3 linked regions of the Homo sapiens genome follow. The protein of the gene in region 3 purifies or fractionates together with the protein of the main gene of each other region. This does not show direct contact. Each region holds a gene or a part of one and is shown on either strand. Other genes may lie near its edges. The genes, in order: FAM120A, DAPK1 and IFI30.

Region 1 (3,748 bases), on a different chromosome or scaffold from region 3:
AGCTAAAAAGGAAGCCAACAGAATGGGAAAAGAGAAATGGCGGAAGGCAAGCAGGGGACAGACGGTGGGAGCGGCAAGGAGTGACAGGGACACAGCGTTCAGAAGTGTTAAAGGTGGGGTCACTTTTCTCACTAATTATACGGTCCAAGCTCTGGAGTATCTAAAGTGCAATTAGAAATTCACTCCAGTTGCAGAATCAGGATGCCAGATGAGAGAGGTGAAGAGTCAGTGTCTGTGTTGATGGGACACAGTATAAATAATATATAAGAATGTAAAACCAGGTGCTGAAGTGTTTGAGGACAGTGAGGCTGTGCCTTGGAAATGGTGAGATGTCAAATAAACATGTGGGTTAGCACTCACCTCAAAATATGTAATATTGAGAAGTATATAATGAAGAATATACTATGGAAGTGGCCAAGAGGATTGTGGCATTTAAGGAAACATCATATTGCAGTAACCCCAGGAAATGGAAGCATTTTGATCATTGAAAAAGGTTCAAGGAGGCAGACAGGAAAAGACAGAGTGGTTTTTGATAGGTTTAATTTTAAAGTAAAAAAAAAAAAAAGGAAGAGATTTAGATGACCATGATAATTGTTGATAAAGATCAGTGCTCAAATAACAAATTGGTGGCACAAGAGCTGAAGCTAACTTAGAACCAAGTTTTCCTTCGCTTGGCATTTTTAAAATGGAATAATTTTTTTAAAAATCTGGGTTTCTGGCTTTCTTGCAAAGTCTGAAGTTCTGGTAATGTTGACTCTATGGTCCTACGTGGCTTTTAAAATGTGCATACCTTTAGCTCTACTGTGTGTATATATCATGTGTATACCATCTGTCGGGGTTGGATAAATTATGGAATACTATTTAGGGACTGAAAAGACTTAGAGCTCTAAGTATAGACATGGAAAGATTTCTTACAAATAAAAAAGCAAACTGCTGAATAACGTATAGTGCAATCACATTAATGTGAAAAAATGGAACTATATTATAATAATATATATTATATAACTTATGACATAAAATATATGGCCTACACAGCCACTGTGGAAAATATATGGCCATTCCTTAAAAAGAAAAACAGAATTACCATATGACCCAGCAATCCTACTTCTGAGTATATACCCAAAAGAACTGAAAGCAGGAACTCGAACAGCTCTTTGTATACTATGCTCATAGAAGCATTATTCATTATTCCCAATAGTCAAAAAGTGGAAGCAACCCAAGTATCCACCAGTGGATGAATGGATAAACAAAATGTGGTACATATACACAGTGGAGTATTACTTAGCCTTAAAAGTTAAGGAAATTCTGACACAATCTACAACATGAAAGAAGCTTGAAGACATTATGCTATGTGAATTAAACTAGTGACAAAAGTAGTACAACAGAGAAATATATACAGTGACTAGTTTGAGGTATAATATGGTCAGTTTTGAACCTTAAAAATCTTCCAGTCAATTAAAGGTCCTTAAGAATAAGATGTACTGTCAGTGTCCAGGATCTACTGATGGACATTTTTCTTCTGAATAGCAACATGACTGTTCCTATCCTAACTAGAAAACATAGCTGAAGCAGTTAGCTATCGTAATTGACCTGGGGGTGAGAATTGTAGGTAGGCACACCCACAAAGTATTCTTACACAAAGAAGCTGAACTTTGACTTTAGCACTCCACTTCCGTCTTGAGGTTACTAATGACTTGTCCCCAGATGTCACTTAATCACTAGATCCTGTTTTTACACATGAAAAATGGGGTAACAAAGCACTCTGAGGATTAAATGAGATGGAATATGTGAGAAAGGATCTAGCAAGCACCTGGTCTGATACCAGTTCATTCTCTTCCCCCATCAAGTATACATGAAGGGAGACCATCATCTCTAAATACAAACATGTAATTATGCTAACCATGAAAATTCTAAACCATAGTCTAACCTCACATTCTTCCACTGACTTATAGCATGAACGCCATTTTATGTAAGAGCATTATTTAACAAAATTCCAATGGAAGCAAATTCAGAAGATCTGAAGGACTTTATTATAAACCCTTACACTGATACCACAAGTCATATAGCAGAAACATTTATGAAAGCTCCAGTGACTTCATGCCACTAAGATTTTAAAATAAACATAAGTCATTCACTGAAGTTTCAAAGGTTATAATGACCCAAGGCACACAAGAAGAAACACTGTCCAAGTAACTAGCTAAAGCCAAGTTCAAATTAGGCTATTTTAGGACCTACACAAAACTAGTCAATACATAGGCCAAAGTATTATTATTTTCATTGTTCTGGCTGTCTTTCCATGTAGACCAACTTCTAATGGTTAAAGAAATACAATTACTACTACTGAACAAAAAAATACAATTACTACTCTGTAAAAGAAATAATCTCTAAATCAAAAAAGATTTCTCCTGGCCAGGCGCAGTGGCTCACGCCCGTAATCCCAGCACTTTGGGAGGCCGAGGCAGGTGGATCACGAGGTCAGGAGCTCAAGACCAGCCTGGCCAAGATGGTGAAACCCCGCCTCTACTAAAAATACAAAGATTAGCCAGGCATGATGGCAGGCGCCTATAATCCCAGCTACTAGGGAGGCTGAGGTAGGAGAATCGCTTGAACCCAGGAGGTGGAGGTTGCAGTGAGCCGAGATCGCGCCACTGCACTCCAGCCTGAGAGACAGAGTGAGACTCCATCTCAAAAAAAAAAAAGATTTCTCTAAGCAAAGGTAACAGGAAATTATGCCCCTCTGCCAATTTACAAAACACTAGAAAGCACCAATAAGATGCTTAAAGTTTTTATAAATGTCTCATTTACTCAACATTATATATACTGAATTGTTCATGTCAATTCCTTTGCCAGTGGTTTTTACTTAATCTTAAAAAAATTATCATATGATAAAATTAACACATTTACTTTGGATGAATAGTTCTGATTTTAATGTATGGTAGCATCACCACCATCAGAATACAGAACAGTTCCATCACTCCACAAAGATCTCTCCTGCTGTCCCCTTTATGTGTACATCCTTCCCCTCCTCTACTCTCAGCACCACTGAATTGGTCCCTATCACTATAGTTTTATAATCATCCCTTTTGAACCTGGCTTCTTTCACTCAGTATAAAACCTTAATTAAATATTCATGCAAGTTGTTACCTACACCAGCAATTCCTTCCTTATTATTGCTAAGTAGTATTCCATAGTATGGCTATACTGTAGTTTAACCATTCACTTATTAAAGGATACTTTGTTTCCACGTTTGGGCTATTATGAATTAAGCTGCTATGGACATTTGAGTACCAGTTTTTGCACAAACAAAAGTCTTCATTAGGAAAATACCCAGGAGTGGAATTGCTGGATCGTATGATAAATGTATGTTTAACTTTATAAGAAAGTGCCACTGTTTTCTGGAGTGGTGGTGCCATTCTGCATTCCCACAAGCAATGTGTAAGGATCCAGTTGCTCAGCATTCTTGCTAGCACTTGGTATTGCTCATATTTTTTTCTCTTTTAGCCATTCTAATAGGCATGTAGTGATATCATGGTTTTAAACGTTTTAACCACTTTATGGGTATCTTTTATTAAATGGTATACACTGTTTCAATCCCTTAAACAGAGAATGCTGAATATTAATTTTTATGACTCAAAATCATCCTTATAGAATAAACATTGTACTACCCTCAGGGACCAAGGAAGTACATAGGGTTGTTTTCCTTTTCTTAAAATAGCCCCAGAATTATGTTTGCTTTTTATAGCTTTTT
Region 2 (3,748 bases), on a different chromosome or scaffold from region 3:
AATTGCAATTATAATCTTAGTGTTTGTCCTGTTGTCACAGAAGGGCAAGGGCTGACAAGAGTTAGCACGGACAATTAAATCTGATTTTGTCCAGGGGACTGGATCAATATACTGTGCATCATAATCTAGCCCTGAACTGCTGCCTCTCCTCCACCCCCAGGCCCTTGGATCAGGCGGTTTACCGCTGGGTTAGTAACTCTTTTCTCTATGATTTGCGCATCTCCAGAAAGGGCGAGGGAGACGCCTGATTCAAACTGCATTTGTTTACCACCCAATGGCCCCATCGTTATGCATTTCCACAATCCAGGAGGGTACGCTTCTGGTACCCCCTTTACCTGCCAAGTTCCTCGCCGGTGTCGTAGTAATCATCCACGTTTTCCTGCCTGAACACGGTCATGATAAACTGTCACGCCTCACCAAAGCCCAGGGCACTTCAGCTCCGCTTCCCAGACCATCACCACCGCTCCTGCGCCTCCGTAGCCCCCTCATGCATCAGTCTCCAGTCCTTTTGAAGAAAAAAAAAAGGCAATAATAATAGTAAAATGGCAACCCCAAAAGGAAGTAGACCTCCCCGGCGCTAAGACCCCGCTCGCTGAAGACCGGGTCTCCGGAGCTGCCCCTCCTCGCGGGGTGGAGAGGAGCACCCTTTGTTAAAGCTGGGCGGCCAGGGACGCCCCCGACCCCTCAGCCCCGCGCGCGCGTGGGGCCGGGCACCACGGCACCCCGAGGTCGGCGTCCCCAAACGCTGGGCGGTCTGTTGGGATCAGAACCGGCTCCGGAAGTGACTGGCCTCCCCGCCTCCCCTTTCTCTGCACACATGCCCACCCAGCTTTCCCACCTCCAGGGACGCCGCGGAAGAATGAAGCCCTCGCCCAGACGGTACGCGCCTCACTGGGAGCAATCTCTCTCCAGCCTGCGGCAACGGTGGCACCCCCGCGCCACCTCTCGGCTCCCGCGCCTCTCCTAACACCGTGGCCACCCTCTCCCCTTCCCCGAGCGAGGCAGTCCCCAGAGCCACATTCCTGGCGACTCCCTCTCCGTTACCCGGCCGACCCGGCGTGCGGCCGCCCGGGGGAGCAAGGGAGGGAAGGGAGCGGCCCACCGAGGCGCAGCAGTTCGCTCCAGATCCTCGCGCCCCGACACAAAGCGCCTGGTCGGGCCGGCGCCACCTGTTCTCACCCGGCCCGCGGGGCTGGGGAAGCCTCCCGGCTGCGATCGCACTTCTCCCCGAAGCCAAGTTTCCCTCCGCCTTGGCCTTCCCAGTTGCTCGAGGCACTGCCCGGACAAACCCCACCGCGCCCTGGCTGGGAAAGCAAAAGCTGGCGCCGGGGGTCGGGGGGACCGGGGAGCCGCGCCTGGCTACTCACCCGGGCGCCTGGGAGCTCCCCCGGTCCCTCCGGAGCGCTGTCGGAGGCCGACCATAGGCGCCAGCGCCGGAGACTAGCCGGGGCGGCGGCGGGAACACAGCTAGGGAGTGAGTGGGGGGCGCAGATCCCTCCCAGGCGCCGGCCCCAGACCCTGCCGCTGCGAGTTGCCGAGTCCCCTCCGCGGAGGGAACAAAGTCCCCGGCGTTGGCTCGGTCCGGCTGTCCTCCTCACACTCCGAAGCAGCCTCTCGGCTCCTTGCCGCCTTTTGGGCGGAGGGCGGCCGGCAGGCGGCCAATGGGGACCCTGCAAGCGGGCTGGCGGCGCGGCCCACCCACCTCCGAGCTGCCCTGCCAGGCCGGCGCTGCGGGTTCTGCGCGGCGCTCGCTGCTCCTCCCAGCTCCGCGCTCCGGGCTCGCTGGCGCGCTCTACCGCGCACACCCCGCACACACCCACTCGCCCCACACCCACGCCGGCCGGGGAGCCAGTGCGTCCGCCCGGAACGCGGGCGCCCCACCTGTGACACATTGCTAAGCTGCCCTCTGACTGGGTTCTAGGGAAACACGGTTCTTCCGTCCCGAGATGTGTACTGGGATCCCAGCTTGTGCCGGGCACGGTGCTTGGTATGGGAAAATCACATAGAACAAAACAGATTTTTTTAAATCCCTGCCTTCCGGAAACCTGCATTCTGGTGGGACAGATAGATAATAAATATGTAAGCTAATTAATAAGGTAATTTTGGAGGATCAGTCCTACGTTTACCACGAAACAGGTTAATGGAATAGAGAATGGCAGGAAGGGAGCGTACCTCATTAGACTGGGTTCCTCTGCCGGACTGGTGTTGGAGCCGAGGCTTGAAGGCAAGAAGGTTTGCAATCTGAAGAAAGGGTTGAGGTCTCCGAGACCCAAAGAAGCAACAGAGACGCAGAGTTTATTTGCGCTATCCCATATGCTATTGGCTATTGTTGAGCTGAAATGTAGCTAGTCCCAAATTAATTGTGCTGTAAGTGTAAAATACACATTAGAGTCCAAGACAGTATGGATATGAGAATGAAAAATATCTCATGAATATTTTTATATTCATTACACTTTCAAATGATAGTATTTTGGATACGTTGGGTTAAACAAAATATATTATTAAAATTAATTTCACCTGTTTACTTTCTTTTTTTTGAGACGGAGTCTCACTCTGTCGCCAGGCTGGAGTGTAGTGGAGCGTGGCAACCTCCACCTCCAGGGTTCAAGTGATTCTCCTGCCTCGGCCTCCCCAGTAGCTAGGACTACAGTCGCGCGTCACCATGCCCAGCTAATTTTTGTATTTTTAGTAGAGACGGGGTTTCACCGTGTCGACCAGGATGGTCTCCATCTCTTGACCTCGTGATCCGCCCGCCTGGGCCTCCCAAAGTGCTGGGATTACAGGCGTGAGCCACCGCGCCCGGCCTCACCTGTTTACTTTTTAAAAGGTGGCCACTAGAAAATATAACAGTACCTATGTTGCTTGCATGAGATTTCTGAGGACTGTGCTGGTCTACACAAAGATCCCATATCCACTGGAGACCTCTATCCACTTTCTCTACTTCCCACCCCTTGCTCCCACCTAATGTTTGGGTGGAGACGAAGAAGGGTTGATTCCCCACATCCCACTGCTGGAGAACCCCAAACGGTGAAAAGCTCCTAAAGGGAAATCTATTTTACTGCCTAGAATGATGAAAACTGACAGATGAAGAGATTTCCGATCCATACCGTTGTTCAAATCCCCAGGCTTTCTAAACTGAGTTGGTTCAAATCTCTGTGGTTCAACAGAAATTTTCAACTGTGAAGATTTTGGCCTCTTGAAAACAAGGCAAAACAAAACAAAAGAATACCCCTCAGGCCTTATGTCAAATCCTAGTCTTTTTTTTTTTTTTGAGACGGGTTTTCGCTCTTGTGGCCCAGACTGGAGTGCAGTTGTGAAATCTTGGCTCACTGCAAACTCCGCCTCCGCCTCCCGGGTTCAAGCGATTCTCCTGCCTCAGGCTACCCAGTAGCTGGGATTACAGGCATGTGACTATGCCCGGCTAATTTTGTATTTTTAGTAGAGACGTGGTTTCACCATGTTGGTCAGGCTGGTCTTGAACTCCTGACCTCAGGTGATCCTCCCGGCTCGGCCTCCCACAGTGCTGGGATTACAGGCGTGAGCCACTGCGCCCAGCCAAATCCTAGTCTTAAATAACATTGCATTAATGACCCACAGGAAGGGCACACAGGAATCAAGGGGAAGTCCCCAAATTGGGAGATGGTATTAGCTTAAGCAGTGGGCTTGATAATACAAAAGGGTCTTGAGAGGTGAGAAATACAGTCAAAAATAACAACAACAACAAAAAAAGAGTGATTCATCTGGGAAA
Region 3 (3,748 bases):
GAGGGCATGAAGAGGGCCTAGGGTACCCTGACACCCTCTCGTAATAATCACCAGTACCCACCCAGGAGATAGGGAATAAAGATGTGATTAAATGGGAGCACACGAGGCAGAAGACAGAGCTGGCATCCTCGTATTTGCCTCCTGTACGTGGGACAGTTTTCCCCCACCCCAGTGTGGGGCCCTGGGGCCGCTCACCTCCACCTTGTTGAATTTGCACTCCTCTTCTCCATGCTGGCACTTGAACTCCCACCTGCCACTGACATTTTGTTCCTGCAAGGCAGCAGGGTGAGAGCCTGCTGGTAGGCTGGGTCCCCTGCTCCCCTGCCCACGTGCCTCAGTTTCCCCAGCGCCCACACACCTGTGCGTTTCCGTAGGGCACCAGCGTGACATTGAGGATCTCCATGACCAACAGCCATGTTGGGAAGAGCTCCCGGATCAGGAAGGCTCGGCAGCCACCGCACAGTGCTTCATAGTAGAGGGTCACATTGACAAGCGGTGCATTGGACTTCTTCAGGGGCCCCCGCAGGTATAGATTGCCTGTCTGTGGATTAGGAAGGCGTGGGAGGCAGGTGTAGCCCTGGGCAGTTCCCCACTTCTCTCAACCCCACTTGGTAGTCTTGTAGAAAGGGGGCTGTGATACGCAATTCATCTTGCACGCCTTCCAGAACTTGCCAGGTGGAATCTTGACTTTGAGACTTTTTTTTTTTTTTTTGAGATGGAGTCTCACTGTCGCTAGGCTGGTGTGCTGCGGCACGATCTCGGCTCACTGCAACACCCGACTCCCTGGTTCAAGCAATTGTCCTGCCTCAGCCTCCTGAGTAGCTGGGATTATAGGCACATGCCACCACACCCAGCTAATTTTTGTATTTTTAGTAGAGACAGGGTTTCTCCATGTAGGCCAGAATGGTCTCGAACTCCTGACCTCGTGATCTGCCTGCCTCAGACTTCCAAAGTGTTGGGATTACAGGCATGAGCCACCGCCTCCGGCCTTGGCCCATGCTCATTTCTTGTCACTTCACCTGGAGACCTTGCCTCTGAGCTGAGCAAGGGATCCACGTGAACCCTTTCCAAGTCCGACTGAATAGAGGCGGCACCTAATAGGTGCTGACTTCCGGCTTCAGCTGAGGGGTGGCGGGTGGCCCATGTCGCTGGAGCGGTGAGCAAGTCGCTCAGCCTCTAGGGCATCTGCCTAATAGGTCCCAAAGACACGCGAGCCCTGCCCTGGCTGGAATGAATGCATCAAGGGTAGCAGCAAGAATGCATGCCGGCGGCCCTTGGCCAGCTGCTGAACTTGTGCCCTGGGCCACAAAAGGAGACCCCAGCTCCTGCCCCAAAAGTACACAGTAGGCGCTCATTGAACCCTTGGGCGGGACTAGGCGGGTGGAGGCAGCTGCGCCTCTCAGATGCGGGATGCGAAAGCGAAACGGCACGGAGGGAGTGTGGCCGCAGCGCCGGGAACTGAACAGGGTTTTTCCAGGAACCCGGCAGGGACAGCGTCCCCTCGGGGCCCTGGTCTTCCCCTGTGAAGTCTGGGGAGAAAGAAGGAGCCGCGTGCCCCGACAGGGCGCCTGTTCCCTCCAGCCTGCCCGCCCTGTCGCCGTCCCTACCTTGTAGTTAACTGGTGGCCCATTCCCAAAGAAGTCTAACGCTTGCAGAGGGGACGCCTGCACCGCCGCCGTGGGGACGTCCAGCAGCAGCAGCAGCGGTGGCAGGAACAGCAGAAGTGGCGACAGGGTCATCGCAGCAGGGGCAAAGGTGTGGCGACTGCAGCGGCTGCCTGGGAAATAAGCGCCTTTAACCAGGCGGCGGTCCCGCCCCTAACCCGGGCCCGCCTCCCGATGCCCACGCCCCTCGGGTCCCGGGCCAGCGTCTCTCCCTCCTCCACTCCTTCCTCTGAGTGTCCCACCCCCACCCCTGCCAGGTGCTGGGTCCCCAGTCACGAGGCCATTGGGCCCCTTGGCAATCAGCCCTGCCCAGGCACGTGAGCCCTGGCGCAAGACTACCTTTAGGGGAGGTGAGGTGGGGCCTTTGAGACAGACACAGGCTGAGAGGAATGGTGGTGTCTCCACGCACCCCTAGACCTTCTAGGGGCGGCTAGGGGACTTGAGGCCCGAGACCCACTCTCAGAGTGGGCCTGTGACCTAACAGGGGTGACGTCGGATGGAGGCTGGGGATGGGATGGAGGCCGGGGTTTTGGGGGAGTAACTGAAATATTCAGGCCCCCGAGAGTGGGCAAGGCCTGTGTGGCCAGGTCTCCTCCCTCCAGTCTCGCCCGTGACCTCCCTCACACCCAACCCCCACATCCTGCCCCTCAACCCTTCCCCCCTCAAACTCCTGACCCCGACGCTCCAGACCCCTCACCGTGGTCCCGTGGGACTGACTCAGGCTTGACCACAGCCACGCCGGAAAGCAGAAGCTGGCGCAGGGAGTGGCGTGTCATTTCTCTAGGGTACCCACCCAGCCCCACTTCTGGCTTGGGGTGAAGAGAACTGGCCTTCCTTCTTTTCATCGTTCAAGGCTTGTGGGGGGTGGGGGGCAACCTGGCCTTCAAGGGACGCCCATGGGGGAGAGAGGCAGCCTGTGCTGTCTGGGATAGGGGTGGGGTGGCTTGGAGTCCACCTGGCTTTGGATTTGAGTGACAGAGCCTCAGCTTTCCCTTCTGTGTAATGGGGAGAAGGATAAGGTTTGGGGAACAAGAGTCACCATGGAGGGCTCAGAGGCAGGTGGGGGAGAGTTGTCCCAGGCTGGGGCTTCTGGATGGCATGGTCAGGCCTTGGTGCCTACACAGGACAGTGGCCCCAACAGTGAAGGCAGAGAGAATAGCCTGGAAAAAAGGCCCAGATGGAGGCTGGAGTGTTGGGGGAATAACTGAGACATTCCAACCCTGCCAGGCCTTACATTCAGGGCAAGACACATCGGATCCTAGGGAAGAAAATGTCCCACACCCAGCTGGAAGATATACCTGAGTCCCCAGCTGTGCCCCCCTCTAGTTGTGGGGAAGACCCTGGCCACACACACAGTAGCTGGTTTGGGAGCCGGAGCTTCTCTGAAGTCCCAGTGGCTGGATGGTCCCCGAGCCCATCCCTCAGACGACCAAACCGTTGGCAAAGGCTCCCCAAGACTCACCACCCCAACTTTGGTGCTTACCCTATGCCGGGTGGGATTGAAGAAATAACCATAAATATAATTGCTACAATTTTTCCAGTAGTTACCAGGCACCAGCCCTATTGGAAGAAATCATAAATGTAACCCTACAATGTATTGCTCTCTGGCTTGGTGCCAGGCATAGAGTGGGCCTACAACCCATTTTATCATTGAACCCTCAGAAGCATCCAGTTGGGGCTGGGGGTAGGTGCTACTGACTCCAGCTGGTAACAAATAAATGGCTGATCAGAGAGGGAAGGCTATTTTGCCAAGGACACACAGCCAGTGGTTGAGTGTTTTTAGAGACCACACGGGATATTCTCTTCCACCCCCAGCTCAGCATAGCTGGGATCATAAAGATGGCAACCTTTCTCCTGTGAGCACCTATGCAGTGAGAGGCACAATCTGGGCTGGAGTTATTTATGGGTTATCTCCAGACAGGACACATGGCAGGGACAGTGCCTGGCAAGGCTAGGGGGCTCTGAGGCTAAGGGAGGCAGGTCCTGTCCCAAGGTCCCAGCAGTAGACTGGGTCAGAGTGGAGGTTTCTTTCTGCACTTGCCCCAGGTTCAGCCTTGTTGGGCCTTGAGAGGTGGCTGTACAAA

What was found.
Region 1: the proteins of IFI30 (region 3) and FAM120A purify together in Homo sapiens (affinity purification with mass spectrometry; 3 studies listed by BioGRID and IntAct, with this or other methods). This does not show direct contact.
Region 2: the proteins of IFI30 (region 3) and DAPK1 purify together in Homo sapiens (affinity purification with mass spectrometry; 5 studies listed by BioGRID and IntAct, with this or other methods). This does not show direct contact.

The regions. Positions count from the first base shown.
Region 1 is NC_000009.12:93,454,620-93,458,367, reverse strand, and holds part of FAM120A (constitutive coactivator of PPAR-gamma-like protein 1), read right to left. Parts: intron 1-3,748. UniProt on the Homo sapiens protein: Component of the oxidative stress-induced survival signaling. May regulate the activation of SRC family protein kinases. May act as a scaffolding protein enabling SRC family protein kinases to phosphorylate and activate PI3-kinase.
Region 2 is NC_000009.12:87,495,727-87,499,474, reverse strand, and holds the start of DAPK1 (death-associated protein kinase 1), read right to left. Parts: upstream 1,609-3,748; 5' UTR 1,368-1,608; exon of another isoform or gene 1,103-1,367; intron 894-1,102; exon of another isoform or gene 839-893; intron 506-838; 5' UTR 398-505; coding exon 336-397; intron 1-335. UniProt on the Homo sapiens protein: Calcium/calmodulin-dependent serine/threonine kinase involved in multiple cellular signaling pathways that trigger cell survival, apoptosis, and autophagy.
Region 3 is NC_000019.10:18,171,833-18,175,580, reverse strand, and holds the start of IFI30 (gamma-interferon-inducible lysosomal thiol reductase preproprotein), read right to left. Parts: upstream 1,769-3,748; 5' UTR 1,740-1,768; coding exon 1,608-1,739; intron 542-1,607; coding exon 359-541; intron 271-358; coding exon 196-270; intron 1-195. UniProt on the Homo sapiens protein: Lysosomal thiol reductase that can reduce protein disulfide bonds. May facilitate the complete unfolding of proteins destined for lysosomal degradation. Plays an important role in antigen processing.